Homo sapiens: one gene and its partner. The protein of the gene in region 1 interacts with the protein of each later gene in a pairwise test. Each region holds a gene or a part of one and is shown on either strand. Other genes may lie near its edges. The genes, in order: KLHL10 and GSTO2.

Region 1 (9,460 bases):
ATTGGGTAATAGTGGTGAAGGAGCGCTGTGAGCTGGGATATCCAAATGGGGAGAAAGGCCATTAGTCCATATCAAGTTCTTCCCAGCAACGTCCTACAGCTTAGTATGAGAAAAAAGTCACCTAGAAGAGGCAACTTCATGGCCAGGGGCGGTGGCTCACACCTGCAATCCCAGTGCTTTAGGAGGCTGAGGCAGGTGGATCACTTGAGGTCAGGAGTTCGAGTCCAGCCTGGCCAACATGGCGAAACCCTGTCTCTACTAAAAAATACAAAAATTAGCCGGTGTAGTGGCATGCGCCTTTAATCCCAGCTACTCAGGAGGCTGAAAAATGAGAATCGTTTGAACCCAGGAGGCGGAGGTTGCAGTGAGCCAAGACGAGATCACACCACTGCACTCCAGCCTGGGCCACAGAGTAAAACTGTGTCTCAAATAAAAAGAAGATGCAACTTCATCTAAGAGAGTGTTACATGAAATTTTCTTCAAGTTTTCCTTTGGGGACATGTCATTTATAAGACCTAAGTTTCTCTTCTCATATTATCTTCCAACATAATCGCTCAATACACTCACATTTTTACCCATTTGGTGAAGTCCAGGGAGCACCTGGATCCACAGAGCTGGTCATTCCTTTGTACTCACCCTGAGAGTGAGGTCTAAAAGTCAGCAATATGAGATTTTACTATCAGAGAAGAAGGGTACTAAGATTTTTTTGCTGTTATTAATTAGCTCAATTTTCAGGGCTTAACCAGTAAGAACTTACTTAATGCTGTGTTTCCCAGAATGTGGTCCACTTTCTCAGGTGATAGGTAAGAAAACTTTAGGGAATTCATGGAGAAGCGCTTTTCAACTCAGAAGTTTTGGATTCATTTTCATGTACAATTTTTTTTTTTTTTGAGACAAGTCTCACTCTGTTGCCCAGGCTGGAGTGCAGTGGCGCAATCTCGGCTCACTGCAACCTCCGCCTCCCGGGTTCGAGCAATTCTTCTGCCTCAGCCTCCCGAGTAGCTGGGATTACAGGCAGGCACCACTACGCCCAGCTAATTTTTTGTATTTTTAGTAGAGACAGGGTTTTGCCATGTTGTCCAGGCTGGTCTCGATCTCCTGACCTCAACCGATCTGCCCGCCTCAGCCTCCCAGAAATGCTGGGATTACAGGCGTGAACCACCACACCCGGCCTGTTTCTTTATAAGTTAATTACAATTTTTAAAAGCAGGCCAATTTAGAGAAAGATTTAGTAAAGGTGATATACAGATATGGCAAAAAAAATGAAATATAACTAGAAGACTGTACTTTGGGACACAGCATGTTGGTGGACAATTCCGTCAAAAGTGTCAATATCATGTGAATGCACAGCATCTATGTGTGTTTCCTCTAAGGTTTCCTTCTATGTGCCAAGACTTTGACACTCTAAAGGGGCTGTTCCAGGGATCATGTGTTACACAGAGCCAGTCCGTAACAGTGCCTAGTAAAAATGAGAATTGACCAAGTAAAGAATTTTAATACATGCATGATTCTCAGGAACATTACAAGATCAAATGGAATCCCTGTCCATCTGTTCAAAAGAAGATTAAATGAAAGATGACATAGTAACAAAGGCAGAAAACTTCTGAAATGTATTAAGATTCTCAATCTGTGTGTTTTTTTGGAGTGAGAACCTTTCTCTAAAAATCAGGCTGGGCAAGATGGCTCATGCCTGTAATCTCAGCACTTTGGGAGGCCAAGGCGGGCGGATCACCTGAGGTTGGGAGTTCGAGATCAGCCTGACCAACATGGAGAAACCTCGTCTCTACTAAAAATACAAAAATTAGCCGGGCATGGTGATGCATGCTGGTAATCCCAGCTACTCGAGAGGCTGAGGCATGAGAATTGCTTGAACCGAGGTTGCAGTGAGCTGAGATTATGCCACTCCAGCCTGGGCCATAGAGCAAGACTCTGTCTCAAAAAAAAAAATACACACACACACACACACACACACACACACACTAGAACCCAACAGAAGAATATAAATTTTCTTTTAAAAAGGCCAGGTGTGGTAGCTCATGCCTATAAGCCCAGCACTTTGGGGAGGCTGAGGAAGGAGGATTGCTTGAGCTCAGGAGTTCAAGACCAACCTAGGCAACATAGTGAGACCCCATCTCTACAAAAAATTTTTAAAATTAGCTAGGTGTAATGTTACATGCTTGTAGTTCCAGCTACTCAGTAGGGCTGAGGCAGGAGGATCACTTGAGCCTAGGAGGTCAAGGCTGCAGTGAACAAAGATCAAGCCATTGCACTCCAGCCTGGGTGATAGAGTGAGACCCTGTCTCAAAACAAACAAACAAACAAGCTCTGCCATTTGGCTGTATGACCCTGGGTAAGTTGCTGAACCTCCAGAATGTTCAAATCTCTTGTAAACTCTATAGCCAACAGTAAATATAATGTCCAGTTCCAACCATTAATCATCATATGTCCTGGCCAGTAAGGAAAAGCTGTCTTAATGTATTAAAACTAGACCCTCCTTAGCAAAACAACAAGTTTTTAAAAATTAATTTTCTAAGGTCTCTATACTGGAATCTTTGGTTCCAATCAGGAACCATTTGAAGTAGCAAATGACAACCATTTCTGAGCAAAGGACGGGAGCAACCCACCTCTTTCCGACACTCCTCACTGATGATCTTGCTATTATCCAGAATATCTGGAAAAAGAGAAAACTCCTTTTACTTGTCCCTTAGAACCCATCGTCTTGTCAAGCTCAACAAGGGAAGCTAGAATGTGACTTACTGTAAGAAGAAGGGCATCGCTTTCCATTATATGCAAACCTGCTCAAGGTCATGTCAAAATCAGAAATCACCTATAAGGCAAAAGAGAGATGATGCCTAAATAGGCACCAGAATTCTAGTGTGGCCCTGCCTCAGCCTGGGGGATGATTATGGAAATCAATACAGCTCAGTGGCCAGGATGTAGGCAAAGCCCTAGGGGAGTTACCGAGTGACACAGAGGGATAGAGGGGAAGTGATCCTAATTAGTACCCGTTAACCCTGAGGAAAACGCAGTCTCCTAGTGTGGGGGCAAGGGTGAATACTCAGGACCCCTCTGACTCCTTCAATATCAGGTCCCTCCTAAGAGATCTCTACCATTACGGCCCATCTGGACATCTTCAACTTACTGGGGAGCCGCTGGCTTGGGGAGGATAAGGCCCTAGGTACTGGTGTGGGCGCCTTCTGTCCAATTAGAGGAAGCAGCATGACCATATTGAGAAATCTGAAATTTGGGTTTTAGGACAGGCGAACCAACCCGCTCTCCTTCAAGCTCCCGGCCATTTCTTGGGGCAGAGAGCTAGGAGGGGTCCGCGGCAGAGCAAAGCGGGAAGGCCCAATGGGCAGGAAGCCTCTCCAGCCGCCCCCAGCCCGGCCGGCCCCCGCACGCCCCAGAGGTACCTGTAACCGGTCTCCGCCGCCCTTGCGGAGGGCGCCCACGATCTCCTGCACCCGCCCAGGCTGCCGCATCAGGACCGTGGCCTTCATCAGGGTGCTCACCTGTCCCGAGACCCGAGAGAACCACTGACCCCTGCGCCACGCTGGGCCCGAGGGGAGCCCGGGGCTCGCTCGGGCGCGCGTGTGAGGCGGGGCCGGGGTGCGCGAGGGGGCGGCTACTGGCCTGGGTGAAGCGGCGGTGCCTCGGTGACCAGCTGGGGGGCTCGAAGCGCCCCGGGGGTCGGAGTCCGGGCCCGCCCCACTCCGGACGCTTCCTCCCTCCTCACCTCCTCTGCCATCCCGTTCGAGGCCTGGTCGGCGGCTCGCGGGACAACGACAGCCCCGCGACCGCACTGCGCAGGCGTCGCCTCCCGCCTGGAGCCCGGGCGGGGGTTGGTGGGGCCGGGGGCGGGGCGGGGGTGGGGCCGAGAATCGAGCGGTCCCGGAGATGGCCGCGATCCGGGTGGGCTTGCCGGTTGCGCTAGGCAAACTGGAGGAGGGTTCTATTTATTATGAAGAGCAGGGTGAAGGTCCCAAGGTGTTGGGGTTACGTGGGTAGGTAGGGTTCTGCCACTCTTTGTGGAGGAAAAGCCTTGCCAAACGTGGTCATTTCCAGGCTGAAAGTTTGTGACAAAAACATGACTGGGGCTGGGCGCGGTGGCCCATACCTGTAATCCCAGGACTTTGGGAGGCCGAGGCAGGATGATCGCTTGAGCCGAAGAGTTCGAGACCAGCCTGGGCAATATGACGAAACCCTGTCTCTACAAAAAATACAAAAATTAGCCGGGCATGGTGACACGCACCTGTTGTAGTCCCAGCTACTCGGGAGGCTGAGGCACGAGGATCACTTGAGCCCGGGAGATCCAGGCTCCAGTAGGCCGAGATCATACCACTGCACTCCACCCTGGGTGACAGATGACACCCTGTCTCAGAAACAAAAACAGAAAAACCACACGGCTGGATGGGAGGAGAGATGAAGGAGCCATAAACTGAATTCTGTTAATCACCCAGAAAGGGCTCTGTTAACTAGGCCATTCCTCATTCCAGAAGAAACTGAGTGACTAACCCATCCAGCGGGCTGGGAGACCCGGGACAGCTTTCTGAAATGTAATCAGCGTTGGCTGGGCACGGTGCGGAGCACTTGTAATCCCAGCTATTCAGGAGGCTGAGGTGGGAGGATCACTTAAGCCCAGGAGGTCGAGGCTGTAGTGAGTTATGATCACACCACTGCACTCCAGCCTGGGTGAGAGAGCGAGACCCGTCCCTAGAAAAAGAAAGATTTTTTTTTTGAGATGGAGTCTCACTCTGTCGCCAGGCTGGAGTGCAGTGGAGCGATCTCGGCTCACTACAACCTCCATCTCCTGGGTTGAAGCGATTCTCCTGCCTCAGCCTCCCAAGTAGCTGGGACTACAGGCATGTGCCACCACGCCCAGCTAATTTTTGTATTTTTAGTAGAGACGAGGTTTCACCATGTTGGCCAGGATGGCCTTGATCTCTTGACCTTGTGATCCATCCACCTCGTGCTGGGATTACAGGTGTGAGCCACTGCGCCCGGCCTAAGAAAGAAATTTAATCAGTTTTACTTCTCCCTTCAGCCTCAATTGACTTGGATTTCCTTGAGTTCGGTGTCTAGGGAGCCAAGTGTTGGGCTGTGGAAGGTAGATGAATGCTCCAGGGATAGAGACCTGTATCAGGTGAGTAACAGGAGCTGGAATCAATAAACACTCAGATGGTGCTAGTGGTCATGGTTCTGTTTTGGGTTCAAGGACACAGAAGGAGGTGTGAGGTGGTTTTCAGCCTAAGTGGGGTGGTAAGGAGGGGAGAAGGAAGAGGACAAGTCCAGGAGGCAGTTCCAGAACCTGAGAGCACAATCCTGTGTGATCTCACTGCAGGGCCAGGATTCTGGAACTTGGGTTGCCTGATAGACCCTATACAAAAGATGTAGTAGGGAAAAGGAGCGACAGCTGGCTAAAGGGGCCCCCCACAACCCTCCCCGACACCCTAGGAAAGCAGCCTCTCTCCGCTGTCCCAGGGTGCCATGGAGATGGAGAGCGCGGCGGCCTCCACACGTTTCCACCAGCCTCACATGGAGAGGAAGATGAGTGCGATGGCCTGTGAGATCTTCAACGAGCTTAGACTAGAGGGCAAGCTCTGCGACGTGGTCATCAAGGTCAATGGCTTTGAGTTCAGTGCCCATAAGAACATCCTCTGTAGCTGCAGTTCCTACTTTAGGTATAACAGGGTTGCCAAATTCAGCCAAAGGGGTAATTGGGCTCATTTTGAGACACTTTGATCCATTTTCTGTTTCCCACCCCATCACCTTAACTTTAGGGACACTGTCAAAGCTCTGGGCTCCTTAAAAATTAAAAAAAAATTTTTTTTTTAGAGATAAGCTCTCATTCTTTCACCCAGGCTGGAGTGTAGTGATGCAATCATAGCTCACTGCAGCCTTCAACTGCTGGGCTCAAACAATCCACCTACTCCAGCCTCCCAAGTAGCTAGGTCTACAGGCACATGCTGCTACGTCCGGCTACTTTTGAAATGTTCTGTAGAGAGGGAGTCTCGCTATGTTGCCCAGGCTGGTCTTGAACTCCTGGCCCAAAGCGATCCTCCTGCCTCAGTCTCCCAAAGTGCTGGGATTACCACTGTGCCTGGCCAACTCTGGTCCAGGCAGGAGCTCCTGCCTGGCTCCTTTGCCTTCTGAAGAGGCATGACTAGGGTCAGGGCCTTTTTTCTCTCTTTTTTTTTTTTGTTTGTTTTGTTTTTTTTTTTCCTTTTGCTCTTGAGAGATCTGATTTTTGTCTTTTTTTTTTGAGATGAGTCTCATTCTGTTACCCAGGCTGGAGTGCAATGGCGCCATCTCGGCTCACTGCAAACTCCGCCTCCCCAGTTCAATCCATTCTCCCACCTCAGCCTCTCAAGTAGCTGGGATTACAGGCGCCTGACACCACGCCCGGCTAATTTTTGTATTTTTAGTAGAGACAGGGTTTTGCCATGTCGCTCAGGCTGGTCTCAAACTCCTGACCTCAGGTGATCTGCCCGTCTTGACCTCCCAAAGTGCTAGGATTACAGGCATTAGCCACCGCGCCTGGCAAGATACAATTTTTCTTTTTTTAAGATGGAGTCTCGCTTTGTCCCCCAGGCTGGAATGCAGTGGCGTGATCTCGGCTCACTGCAACCGCTGCCTCCCAGGCTCAAGCGATTCTTCTGTCTCAGCCTCCCGAGTAGCTGGAATTACAGGCTCCCGCCACCATGCCCAGCTAATTTTTGTGTTTTTAGTAGAGACGGGGTTTCACCATGTTGGTCAGTCTGGTCTCGAACACCTGACTTCGTGATCCACCCACCTTGGTCTCCCAAAGTGCTGGGATTACAGGCATGAGCCACTGCACCCAGCCTTTAAGGTCTGATTTTTCAACTGGATTTCAACCAACTATTGGTGGGCCAGGTGCTTTAATCTTTGATTCTCACCCAAACCAACCTTTGGGAAGGTTGGACATCCCTACTGGATTTCAGATGACAATGCCACTTCAGGGACCCCCCTGTACCCCTATCCCAATAGAGACCATTTCAAACAGGGTGATAAATTAACAAGGATTAAGGGGATGGGAAGGGAGATGAGGGGGAAATACCCAGGAAATATCAGAAGAAAAAGGGAGTTTGGGCTAAAACCATTGTAACCCAGGAGGTAGAAGGGCTATTTTGTTCATGAGCTGAAAATGTTTGAGTAATCAATTCCAATGAAGATATGATCAATGTGTCCTACCTGTTGCTAAAACTTCTCATTCAGGTAGACCACAGAGCAGAGTCCACAATTTATTTTTTATTTTTATTTTTTTGAGATGGAGTCTTGCTCTGTCACCCAGGCTGGAGTGCAGTGGCACAATCTCAGCTCACTGCAACCTCCACCTCTCAGGTTCAAGCGATTCTCCTGCCTCAGCCTCCCGAATATCTGGGATTACAGCTGTGTGCCACCACATCTGGCTAATTTTTCTTTTTTTTTTTGAAATGGAGTTTTGTTCTTGTCACCCAGGCTGGAATGCAATGGCATGATCTCTGCTCACTGCAACCTCTGCCTCCCAAGTTCAAGCAATTCTCCTGCCTCAGCCTCCCGAGTAGCTGGGGTTACAGGTTTCACTATGTTGGCCAGGCTGGTCTTGAACTCCTGACTTCAGGTGATCCGCCTGCCTCAGCCTCCCAGAGTGCTGGGATTACAGGCGTGAGCCAACGCGCTCAGCTGAGTCCAGAAATAGACCAAATAGTAATTGTTTTAGGTTTTTGCAGGCCACACAGTCTGTTGCAACTACTCTGTTTTTATACTGCAAAAGCAGCCTTAGACAATACTAAATGAATGGGTGTGGCTGTATTCCAATAAGATTATTTATGGACACTGAAATTTAAATGTATTATAATTTTCAGGTGTCACAGAATATTCTTTTGATTTTTTCCCCCAACCAGCGGGGCGCAGTGGCTCACGCCTGGAATCCCAATAATTTGGGAGGCTGAGGTGGGTGGATCATGAGATCAGGAATTCAAGACCAGCCTGGCCAAGATGGTGAAATCCCATTTCTACTAAAAATACAAAAAACCGGGCATAAATACAAAAAGCCGGGCATGGTGGTGGGCACCTATAATCCCAGCTACTCGGGAGGCTGAGGCAGAGAATTGCTTGAACCTGGGAGGCAGAGGTTGCACTGAGCCAAGATCAAGCCACTGCACTCCAGCCTGGGTGACAGAGCGAGACTCCATCTCAAAAAAAAAAAAAAGATTTTTTCCTCCAGCCATTTAAAATGTAAAAATCATTCTTAATTTGTGGGCAGCATGAAAACAAGAGGTGGGCCAAATTTGGACAGAGTCCATAGGTTTGCAGACCCCTGCTCTAGAGGAAGAATTTGATTTCTAAGACCACATTTCCTTAAACTTCTTAAAAAAAGGAAGCAAAAGCCGGGCATGGTGGCTCACCCGTGTAATCCCAGCACTTTGGGAGGCCGAGGCAGGCAGATCACCTGAGGTCAGGAGTGCGAGACAAGCCTGACCAATATGATGAAACCAGCCTGGCCAACATGGTGAAATCGCATCTCTACTAAAAAATACAAAAATCAGTTGAGCGTGGTGGCACACACCTATAATCCCAGCTACTCAAGAGGCTGAGGCAGGAAAATTGCTTGCACTCTGGAGTTGGAGGTTGCAGTGAGCCAAGATCATGCCATTGCACTCTACCCTGGGTGACAGAGCAAGACCCTGTTTCCAAAAAAAAAAAGAAAAAAAGAAAAGAAAACAATTAATAAAAAGAGAAGCATTCCTGTTCTCATGAAGTTTACCCCCTGGATGGGGAAACAGGCATTAAATGAGTAAAATGCATATCAAATCATCATAAATGCCTGGGAAAATAAGAAAAGGAAGATAAAAAGCAGTGAGTGGCCATTTTATTTTTATTTTTTCAGACAGAGTCTCGCTGTGTCCCCCAGGCTGGAGTGTAGTGTCATGATCTTGGCTCACTGCAACCTCCGCCTCCCAGGTTTAAGCGATTCTCCTGCCTCAGCCTCCCAAGTAGCTGGGACTACAGGCATGTGCCACCATGCCCAGCTAATTTTTGTATTTTTAGTAGAGACGGGGTTTCACCACGTTGGCCAGGCTGGTCTTGAACTCCTGACCTCATGATCCACCCGCTTCGGCCTCCCAAAGTGCTGAGATTATAGGCGTGAGCCACCACGCCTGGCCCAAGAGACCTGGGTCTTACTCTCAGTTCTAGATCTTAATTTCTCCATCCACAAGGTAAGAGTGACCAAAGTCAGAGTTCTTGGAAAGGTGTTCTTCTTGTCCACTGTATATAGCACATGCCTGCACCCCACTTTCTCAGACCATTTCCAATGTACTCACCTAACAGGAGAGAAATGTTTCCGTGGCTGCTAGTTTCTTTCTTTTTTCCAGAGCTTTGTTTACAAGTGGCTGGAACAACACTGAAAAGAAGGTATACAACATCCCTGGCATTTCTCCCGACATGATGAAGCTAA
Region 2 (9,851 bases), on another chromosome or scaffold:
TGGATGGTAAAATAGAAGCAAGAAACACAACCATGTCATCTTAGAGCTCCTGGTAGGTAAGATGACTTCTGGGCATACACATGCATCCCTCATATAAAAAAAGCAGATTTCAAGATAGTTGAGAAAAATATATCCATAGCCTAAAAAAGGCCATAAGAGGGTTGCAAAATCTCAAAATCAAAATAAATTATTACTAATATATATTTGGTGCTTCATGTGTATTGACCCAGTTAATTCTTAAAATAGTCCAATAACTGGGCCGGGTGCGGTGGCTCATGCCTGTAATCCCAGCACTTTGGGAGGCCGAGGCGGGCGGATCACGAGGTCAGGAGATTGAGGCCATCCTGGCTAACGTGGTGAAACCCCGTCTCTACTAAAAACACAAAAATTAGCCGGGCGCGGTGGCAGGCGCCTGTAGTCCCAGCTACTCAGGAGGCTGAGGCAGGAGAACGGCGTGAACCCGGGAGGCGGAGCTTGCTGTGAGCCGAGACTGCGCCACTGCACTCCAGCCTGGGCGACAGAGCGAGACTCCGTCTCAAAAAAAAAAAAAAAAAAAAAAAAAAAAAAAAAAAAAAAAAAAAGTCCCATAACTGTTCTATTTTGATTCACTTTAAAAGATGAGTAAACTGAGACTAGCATAGTTAAGCACTTCTCAACTAGTAAGTGAAAGAGGGAGGACTAGGAACCCTGGAAGTTTGACTCCAGCGGCAACAATCTCAACCAGTATCTTAGTCTTTATCAGATGCCATGAACTGAATGATTGGCAAATGTTTTTACATATATTAAATATTTCAGGCTTTTCAGGCCATCTGGTCTCCACTATTTAGTTCTACACTTGTAGTGTAAAAACAGCCATCGATGATAAATAAACAAATGGGTGTGGCTGTATTTATGGACACACTGAATTTGAACTGCATATATGTATTTTAATAGCCTTTTTTTAAAAAAAAGTTTTAGATTCACAGCAAAATTGAGCAGAAAATACACATTTCCCATATACCCTGTGCCCCCGCACATGCACAGTCTCTTCCACTATCAATATTCCAATCAGAGAGGTACATTTATTACAATCAATGAACCCACATTGACATATTATCACCCAACATCCATAGTTAATATATTAGGGCTCACTCTTGGTGAATTTCATATAATTTTCACATATCACGTTGTGACTGGTTTTTCTTTTTCAACCCTTTAAAAATGTAAAAAATCATTCTTAGATATTGAGCTATAAAAAAACCAACAATTGGTTGGATTTAGCCCAATGGCCTTAATTTGCCCATCCATGGTCTCTGGATAATGGCCAAACTGGGAATTCCATTTGTAAATTAAAAGGTTCCTGGATCCACCTTTCTACTTTGCCAGAAGAGGATGATTTTCCAAGTTTTGTTTTTTCATTCCCACCTTTTAAAAGAAACTAACTCTGAGAGTTGGGAAATGTTCATGAAAAGTGTATCTGTATGTGGGAAATCAAGTTCTGAAATGCCAAGTTAATTTGGTAGAGTTAGAAGACAGGGATGGAAGCTGTTCTCCTCTAAAGGGAAACAATCTAGTGTCAAGGTTCTCAGAACAGGCCCTGGAGCCCAATGGGCTGACTTTTTGAGACCCAGCTTTGGCACTTAGGCAAGCTATCTAACCTTTTTGGATTTCACTTTCCTCACCTGCAAAATGAGAACACCAATAATACCTACTTTATGAATTGTGAGTATCGAATCAAATAGTCCAGGGCATCGTCAGTATAGTAAGAGCTCAGTATACGTCAAAGTTAATGACAAACGCTAGTGAGTAAGAACACATTTTAAATAGCAGAGTGCATTCCAATTTTGTATCCACAAAGATGAAGCACACTGTGATTCGGCTTTGCCAAGCATATTAGAATTAAAGTTCAACTCACAATACTTATTTCACCAGTTACCAGTTTAATGCCAATTGAATGGGCTGAATGCTGCAGACTCCATTTCAGTAATGTGGTTTTTAATCTTACCTCTGAACACTATACTTTCCCTAGAAAGATTTTAACCTTAAGCTTATCCCTACTTTCTTTTGAATACCCAACAGGTACTTCTTTGAAATCCTCTTTGCAAACTTTCCTTCTATGTTATTTCATGTTTATACCTTTATTATACTGACCCACTCAATCATGAAACAAATTGTAAGTAGACCATATTAAACCTACTCCAAATCCATTTTCAGCCACCTGAAATATGATCGGATCTGCTTTGAAAATGTTTGGATCTTCGGTCATGGGTGATTAACGACTTAAGCCTTCTAGGAAAATAATGCCACCAAAGAAATAGCTTACACTCTATTTACATGCATTTGTTTTGAGAAGAGGAACTGTGGTTTGCATTCGGCAACTTTTCAAAATTTTTTGTCACGCCATCTCTTGATAGTAGCAGAAACTGGACTGGAGTACATTCCTCTTAATAAGTTAGAAGCCTAATTTATATGAAAGATTATATTACTGGGTGTTCCCTTATTGTCCAATGAGTTCAAAAAGTGAGATACGTTAGGTAAAAGGTTCTATTCTCAAATGTGCTTATATTCAGGAAAAATTTCATATTCCCAATTGGGAAATCAGGGTCAAATGAGGCTATCTTTTTAACTACTTGATTCTGCTTCCCTATCCCTATTTCTCTCTACAACTTGAGGAATCAAAGAAAAAAAAAACTTTTTAAATAAATATTTGGTATAATAACATTTGAATAAGTAAAGGCAAATTGTCAAGATCCTGAAATCAGGAAAAGTCAAATAATTTGTAAAATCAAAACCACTGAGTTTGGAAAAGGAACATTATTAACTCATTAACTCCTGTTAAATCCCACGAATAATGGTGTGGTCAAAAAGGCAGATACAGGCCGGGCGCGGTGGCTCACGCCTGTAATCCCAGCGATTTGGGAGGCTGAGGCGGGCGGATCACGAGGTCAAGAGATCGAGACCATCCTGGCTAACACGGTGAAACCCCGTCTCTACTAAAAATACAAAAAATTAGCCGGGCGCGGTGGCGGGCGCCTGTAGTCCCAGCTACTTGGGAGGCTGAGGCAGGAGAATGGCGTGAACCCGGGAGGCGGAGCTTGCAGTGAGCCGAGATCGCGCCACTGCAGTCCGGCCTGGGCAGAACAGCGAGACTCCGTCTCAAAAAAAAAAAAAAAAGGTAGATACTATCCTCTGTCAGAGCTGTTGGATAAAGAGACTGGAAAAATAGCACATATAAATTCATCTCACGAACGGTCTTACTGTAAGAGTTCAGGCTAGATTCGAATCTCTTCAATATTTATTAGCTGGGTGACCTTGGGCAAATGACAACAACTTTCGGGTGTTCTTATATGTAATTCGTAGCTAATAGTACCAGTACATTATGTGGTTTGCGAAGGTTTCATTCAGAAACTGGATGAGAAATATTGAATGCTTAGCATGTGTCTGATACATAGTAAGTGTTCAACATTAGCTATTATTATTTTATGATTATTTCAATGTAGCAGGGAAGACTTTTCACAGTTTTCACAAAGACAGCACATTCCCAGAAACCAAATTCCCCTGCTTGCCAGTGCCTTAAACACGTAAACACGTGGGACTCGTGGTGTCCCACGCAAGGCTGAGAACTGGTTATCTGGGGTGGTCTCTGCCTGTTTCCAGCCAAATCAGAAAAAATAAGAACACCTTAATTAAAGGTATGCGGTTTAAAGACCTGTTCTTTATTCTTAGGCTGCACTTTGTTGGATGTGAAATTCTTTGATGCAACAGTGGCCAAGGCTAAATAGGATTTCTCGTAAAGTGTTAGGCAAAAGTTAAAGTTGGCAAGCCTACTGTGGGCCCCGAAATTCGTGAAAACCCCAGGAAACAGAATTGACCTCAAACCCCTCTTCCCTTCCAATACAACGCAGGCCGAACGGACCCACCGGTGGCGGTGAGAGAGGTCCCGCGAGAGACCTCCGGGAACTCGGGCAACCGGACCAGGATTGGCGGCGGCAGCAGCAGCAAGGAGGCGGGGCCTAGACGGGGCCTGCCCCTCGCACGTGATCCTACCCGCCAACTAGCCCCGGCGCCCAGAGCATCAGCCAATCCTCAAAGCTTTGGAAGTACCTGCCCAGCAGTGCGGCTGAGCCAATGGGCGGCCTCCTTACAGGCTCCTGGAGATCGGGATTCGCGGGTCCTGCCGGCGCCGGTGGCTGACGAAAGAGGAACCGGTAGTGGTTGGCTGTGGGACCCCGGCACCCGGCTCCGCACCTGAGGGGAAATCCGCTGGAAAGCACTAGGGCCAAGCGGCTCCGGTAGGCGCGCGGCAGCAGAGGTGGTCCGCCGCCGGCAGCCGGGGCTTTGGTGGCCGCTGAAGGTTTGCGGCAGGAGGCCTTTGTGAAGTCAGTCGGCTCCAGGTCGCCCTCCGGATGCGGTCCCCACACCGCCTGCGTCACCTGGGTTGAGGGGCTCATTTGAAATACAGACTTCGCTACCCACCCCAGCCTGCTGAATCGGAAATGCAGCGGTGAGCCATAGGTGATTATTATGCACCCTTAAATTTAAGAATTAGTCATTCGGAGGTTTCTCTCAATGGCGAACTTGAAAATAAGTTCAGGAAACCAGACAATTGGAGCGGACCGACAGCCCTGATTCCAATGGTAAGAGCAGTGCGCTGGGTGTGATCTTTCTGCCAGCACCTTAAGGCCTCACTTAACCTCGGGACCTTAGTTGCATCATCTATAGAATGAAATGATTGCTCTCCGACCTACCTTCTCGTGGTGGTGATGTGATAATAAAAATTGAATAGTGAGCAACCCAGTGGGCTATGGAAATGTGTGGAAGATGGCATTTCTATTTCTCAGTGGGGCTCTTACCTATTACTCATCAACCTTGTAGGCAGAATTGACTGATGCAGCCTACACAGTATTTAATTACATAAATGGGACACCACCTATGTGCCCAACATGGGATTTGATAGGAAGGATTTGAAGGGGTTAGAGACAGGGAGACCAAATAGGAGTCTGCCCAGCCACCCAGCTTTCGGGTAATGTGCGTCTGGTCTTCAGGGCCAACAATAGAGAGAATGTGAAATTAAGTTGATGATGGAAATGAAAGAAGGAGGAATTGAAAGCTTCTCAACTAAGAAACCAGAAGACAAGCAACAAGAGAGCATCTCATGAAATCACACAACAGGGTAACTGAGTGGGTATTTCCTGTGAGCAGTTATAAAGTTAGATTGTGGACGGGTACGGTGGCTCATGCCACTTTGGGAGGCCGAGGCGCGCCGATCACCTGAGGTCGGGAGTTGGAGACCAGCCTGACCAACATGGAGAAACCCCTTCTCTACTGATAATACAAAAAAATTAGCCAGGCGTGGTGACGCATGCCTGTAATCCCAGCTACTCAGGAGGCTGAGGCAGGAGAATCGCTTGAACTCAGGAGGCGGAGGTTGCGGTGAGCTGAGATCAGGCCATTGCACTCCAGCCTGGTCAACAAGAGTGAAACTCCGTCTCAAAAAAAAAAAAAAGATTCAAGTCCAGATTTTGCTAAAGATGATAATTTGGGGGTTTTCAGCATGGACTATGATAGAACCCTCAGAGTCGTTTCAGCATCCTGAGACAGGAAATGCATTTTCATTTCTGTAGGGGGGCGTTAAGGAGACCCCCACCGTTTGGCTGTTGATGTCAAATCAGTCAGAGAAGATGATCCCATGCAACCTGAACCTTGGTAAAATAAAAGCATGCTATTATTCATATTAGTGAAGGAAAATATCAGACATAGCTTTATTGCTGACTCCTGCCCCCTTCAGAGCCCATAGTCACAGGCCTCAGGGCTGTTCTGTAAGTAGAGCTCTAGGAAACCTTGCCAGTCTTTCTCACTAGTAAGCAGGGCTGAGACTGTGGGATCTTCCTTCATGGCTGCCATCCACAGTTTCAGTTTTGGAGTGTGGTCTACACACCTGTGGGAAGAGGAAAAAATGAAAGGTGTGAGCTAGGTCAACTAGGATGACATCACAGAGTCTCCCATATGTAATTATTACTCTACAGTTTCACTTTTTTCCCTTAAATATTTCATTAAAAATATTTAAAAATGCCTGTAATAGAATATTCAATTTGAAAGACACTATAGAGGTCCCTTTTTTACACAAAAGGAATGAGACTAGAGTGAAGCAATTTGTTCAGTTAATGTGAGAACTTGCCCAAAGAGAGAAACTGACAATTTATTAAAATAAGAACAGGGAATACAATCAGGAATGTTCTATGTTAATTATTCTACACCCAGATTATGACCAAAAGTAACCCTGAATAGCTCTATCGTCCAAGAAGCCGGAGTAAGGCAAGGTGGCTGCCAAACTCAAAACAGAATTTGGAAAATAATGTGGAAATCTTACGGTAAATGGGAGGTAACACTGGTCGTACAATCCCGCAACAACATCCTTACAAAAATTTACAACCTTATGGAATTTTTTTTTTTTTTTTGATGAAGTGTCTTGCTCTTGCCCAGGCTGGAGTTCAGTGACATGATCTCAGCTCACTGCAACTGCCTCCCGGGTTCAAGTGATTCTCCTGCCTCAGCCTCCCGAGTAGCTGAGATTACAGGTGTGTACCACCATGCCCAGCTAATTTTTGTATTTTTAGTAGAGATGGGGTTTCACCACATTGGCCAGGCTGGTCTCTAACTCCTGACCTCAGATGATCCACCCGTCTCGGCCTCCCGAAGTGCTGGGCTTACAGGCGTAAGCTACCATATCCTTCCCCTTATGGGTTTTTAATCAGGAAGGAAGGAATAAATTTTAAAGCACTTTACTACATGTCTCAGAAATCCCCTGCCCCATTGCAGTGATGGAGAGTAGTTAGTGTAGGTATATGACATGCCTGGGATAGTCCAAGATTCCCCTGTCTGCTTGTTCTCATTCAGACCAGTTGTATTAAATATTTCAACTTCTGTTATAAAGAAAGGTCAATATATACTATTCCACCTGTCATCCTAAATTATGCACAAAATATTCAAATATCTTACTCATTTAACTTCATTGCTTCCAGCCGTTCAAACCAGGGCCAGATGAGGTAATCAATCATAGAGATAGAATTGCCACCAAAGAAGGTCGTCTTCTTATTAGTCAGAACCTGAACATTAAACAGCATAAAAGTATTTCTTACTTGTGCATGTAGTAAGACTCACTAGAAATGCTGAAGGGAAATAAGTAGAGCAGGTGAGAGAAGCAGTTTTTACTCCGATGTATCCAAGTTGGGTTTTTTTCTGATCAAAAAGCTTAATTAAGCTTTAGAATCTGTTGGTCTGGGATGAAGTAAAACAATCAACAACATAAACTGGAAAATTGAAAAATAAAACAAGTCACAGAGTACAACATATTTGTAATACAAAGGACTGGTATTCAGAATATAGAAAGGATTCCTGGGAATCAGTAAGAAAAATAGCAAACGACCCATTGGAAAAATGAGCAAGACTTGATCTTCAAGAAAGATGATGTCCAAATGGCCAATTATCATTTGGAAAGGTGTTCAACTGCATTAGTCATTAGGGAAATGCAAATTAAAACCAAAATGCAATAACACTATACACCCAAGAGAATGCCTACAATGAACAAAATGAAGTTGGCAAGGGTATGGAACCACTGTCGTAGAGGTGTAAATTGGTACAACCATGTTTTAAGAGTATGCATACTCATCACCCAGCAATTGTACTTGGCAATGTAACACATGTTCACCAAAAGATATGTTATGTGAATGTTCACTGCAGCACTATTTGTAATAGCCCAAATGTGAAAACGTTTACTATCAAGAGTAGAATGGGTAAAGTGTAATATACTATACTTTGGAACACTGTATAAAGAACAGGAAAGAACTACACACAGCAGAGATGAACCCACAAACCTAATATTGAATGAAAGCAGGCAGACCCAAAAGATGAACATTATATGAGTCCATTTGTATAAAGTACAAAAAAGCCCAAACTAGTATTTTGTTAGTTGATATGGGTGCTGGTTCCATGGCTGTGTTCGCTTTGTGAAAACGTGTTGTGTTTTTATGCTTTGGGTACTTCTCTGCATTAAAAATTAAAAATATTAACTTTTCAATATAAAATGCACAGTCTGCAGCTTATGATGGTTCAATTTAAATTCTTTTCAACTTTACGACGGTGCAAAAGCAAGCATTCAGTAAAAACTCTACTTTGAACTTTGAATTTTGCTCTTTTCCTGGGCTATCGATTTGCAGTATGATAACTCTTGATGCTGGGCAGCCATACCATCAAGAGAGTAAACAACCAATGCTCTAAAGTGTGCTGTGTTGCCAGCATCTTTTGGATGCAGGTATTCGATAAATTATATGAGATATTCAACACTTTATAAATATTTTATGTTTGATGGTTTTATGTTTGATGATTTTGCCTAATTGCAGGCTAATGGAAGTTTTCTGAGCACATTTAAAGCAGGCTAGGCTAAGCTATGATGCTCTGTAGGTTGGGTTTATTAAATGCATTTTCCACTTATGATATTTTCAGCTTACGGTGGGTTTATTGGATGTAACCCCATTGTAAGTGCAAAAGCATTTGTACTTAAAATATACTGGAAATAGACTGGATTAACTGCTAAACAGATGACAATCATTTGAAAACAAAACACAAATTGTATGTTTCTGAAATTTTAAGAAGGCGAATTGGTTACAGGGTTTGCCAAAGGGGGTGATTGAGAATATTATCTGGCTATTTAAACCACCAAACTAATTTGCCCTTTATAAATAACCTCCATAGTTTTTTTTCAATGCATAATATGCATTTTAGATTGCTTATATCTACCTACTGTGTTCTGTCTACTACTAAACTAATTATCTGAAGAATATGGACTGCATCTTACTTTCCAGCTCCCACACTGTTCAGCAGAAAAATATAAAAGTACCAACACTGATTCAAGAAGAAATATAAAACCAAAAAACCAATTACCATTAAAGAAATCAAACTAGTAATGAAAAATCTACCCCTGTTAAAGACACCAGGCTCAAATGTTTTAAAGAAACCGCTAGTCCCTACCAAATGGTTTCAGAGATTAGAAAAACAGGTTAGTTACCCAACTCATTTTATGAGGTCAGAATATCCTTGAAACCAAAAGCCAATAATGATACTATAAGAGTAGAAAATTTATAGGCCAATCTCATTTATGAACACACATACAAAAATCATTCATTAGCTAATTCTACAGTACATATAAAAATCCATAGAGAACAAGTAGGTTTTATCTTAGGAATGCTAGGATGGTTAAACATTAAAAAAAAAAAAATTTGTCAATAGCACCATATTCACCAGATTAAGAGGAAAAAATTCTATGAACATTTCAATAGATGTAACAGATGCAGAAAAACCATTCAATAAAATTCAACATTTATGACTTTTTTAAAAATTAGCAAACTAGTAATAGAAGAGAACTTTATAATGAAAAAAAGGTTTCTGAAAAACCTACAGCAAACATCATGCTTACTGATAAAATGTTAAAATGCATTCCCATGAAAGACAGGAACTATGTCTTCTGTCAGTAAAAACTTCAGGCTTAGCATGAATGAAATATTTCAAGGCCAAGAGACAGACTCCAAGGCCCAAATGTCAGCTGTCCCCAAAAGAAGGTAAAATACATCTGGGCTTCCCTCAAGTGTCTGTACTGTTCATTGCAAACTTTTTCTGGTGGGAAATATTTAGTATGTAATACTAAGTGGACACAGGAAAAAAAGCAGGACACAGAATGATATCTATGCTCTGATTAGAGCTATATTAATTTTTTTTAAATATATGGACAAGGACTGCAAACAAGCATGGAAAACTGGATACATAAAAACTTGTGGAAACGTGGGTACAATTTCCTTTTTCCTTGTTATTTTAACATT

What was found.
Region 2: the proteins of KLHL10 (region 1) and GSTO2 interact in binary tests that used the Homo sapiens proteins (3 or more experiments, as listed by UniProt).

What each region holds. Positions count from the first base shown.
Region 1 is NC_000017.11:41,832,446-41,841,905, forward strand, and holds the start of KLHL10 (kelch-like protein 10), read left to right. Parts: upstream 1-5,379; 5' UTR 5,380-5,487; coding exon 5,488-5,681; intron 5,682-9,377; coding exon 9,378-9,460. Other genes in the region: NT5C3B (7-methylguanosine phosphate-specific 5'-nucleotidase), read right to left, coding at 1-32, 2,625-2,671, 2,758-2,827, 3,414-3,512, 3,737-3,748. UniProt on the Homo sapiens protein: May be a substrate-specific adapter of a CUL3-based E3 ubiquitin-protein ligase complex which mediates the ubiquitination and subsequent proteasomal degradation of target proteins during spermatogenesis.
Region 2 is NC_000010.11:104,263,318-104,273,168, reverse strand, and holds the start of GSTO2 (glutathione S-transferase omega-2), read right to left. Parts: upstream 3,986-9,851; 5' UTR 3,900-3,985; intron 1-3,899. Other genes in the region: GSTO1 (glutathione S-transferase omega-1), read right to left, coding at 5,764-5,917, 6,979-7,085. UniProt on the Homo sapiens protein: Exhibits glutathione-dependent thiol transferase activity. Has high dehydroascorbate reductase activity and may contribute to the recycling of ascorbic acid. Participates in the biotransformation of inorganic arsenic and reduces monomethylarsonic acid (MMA).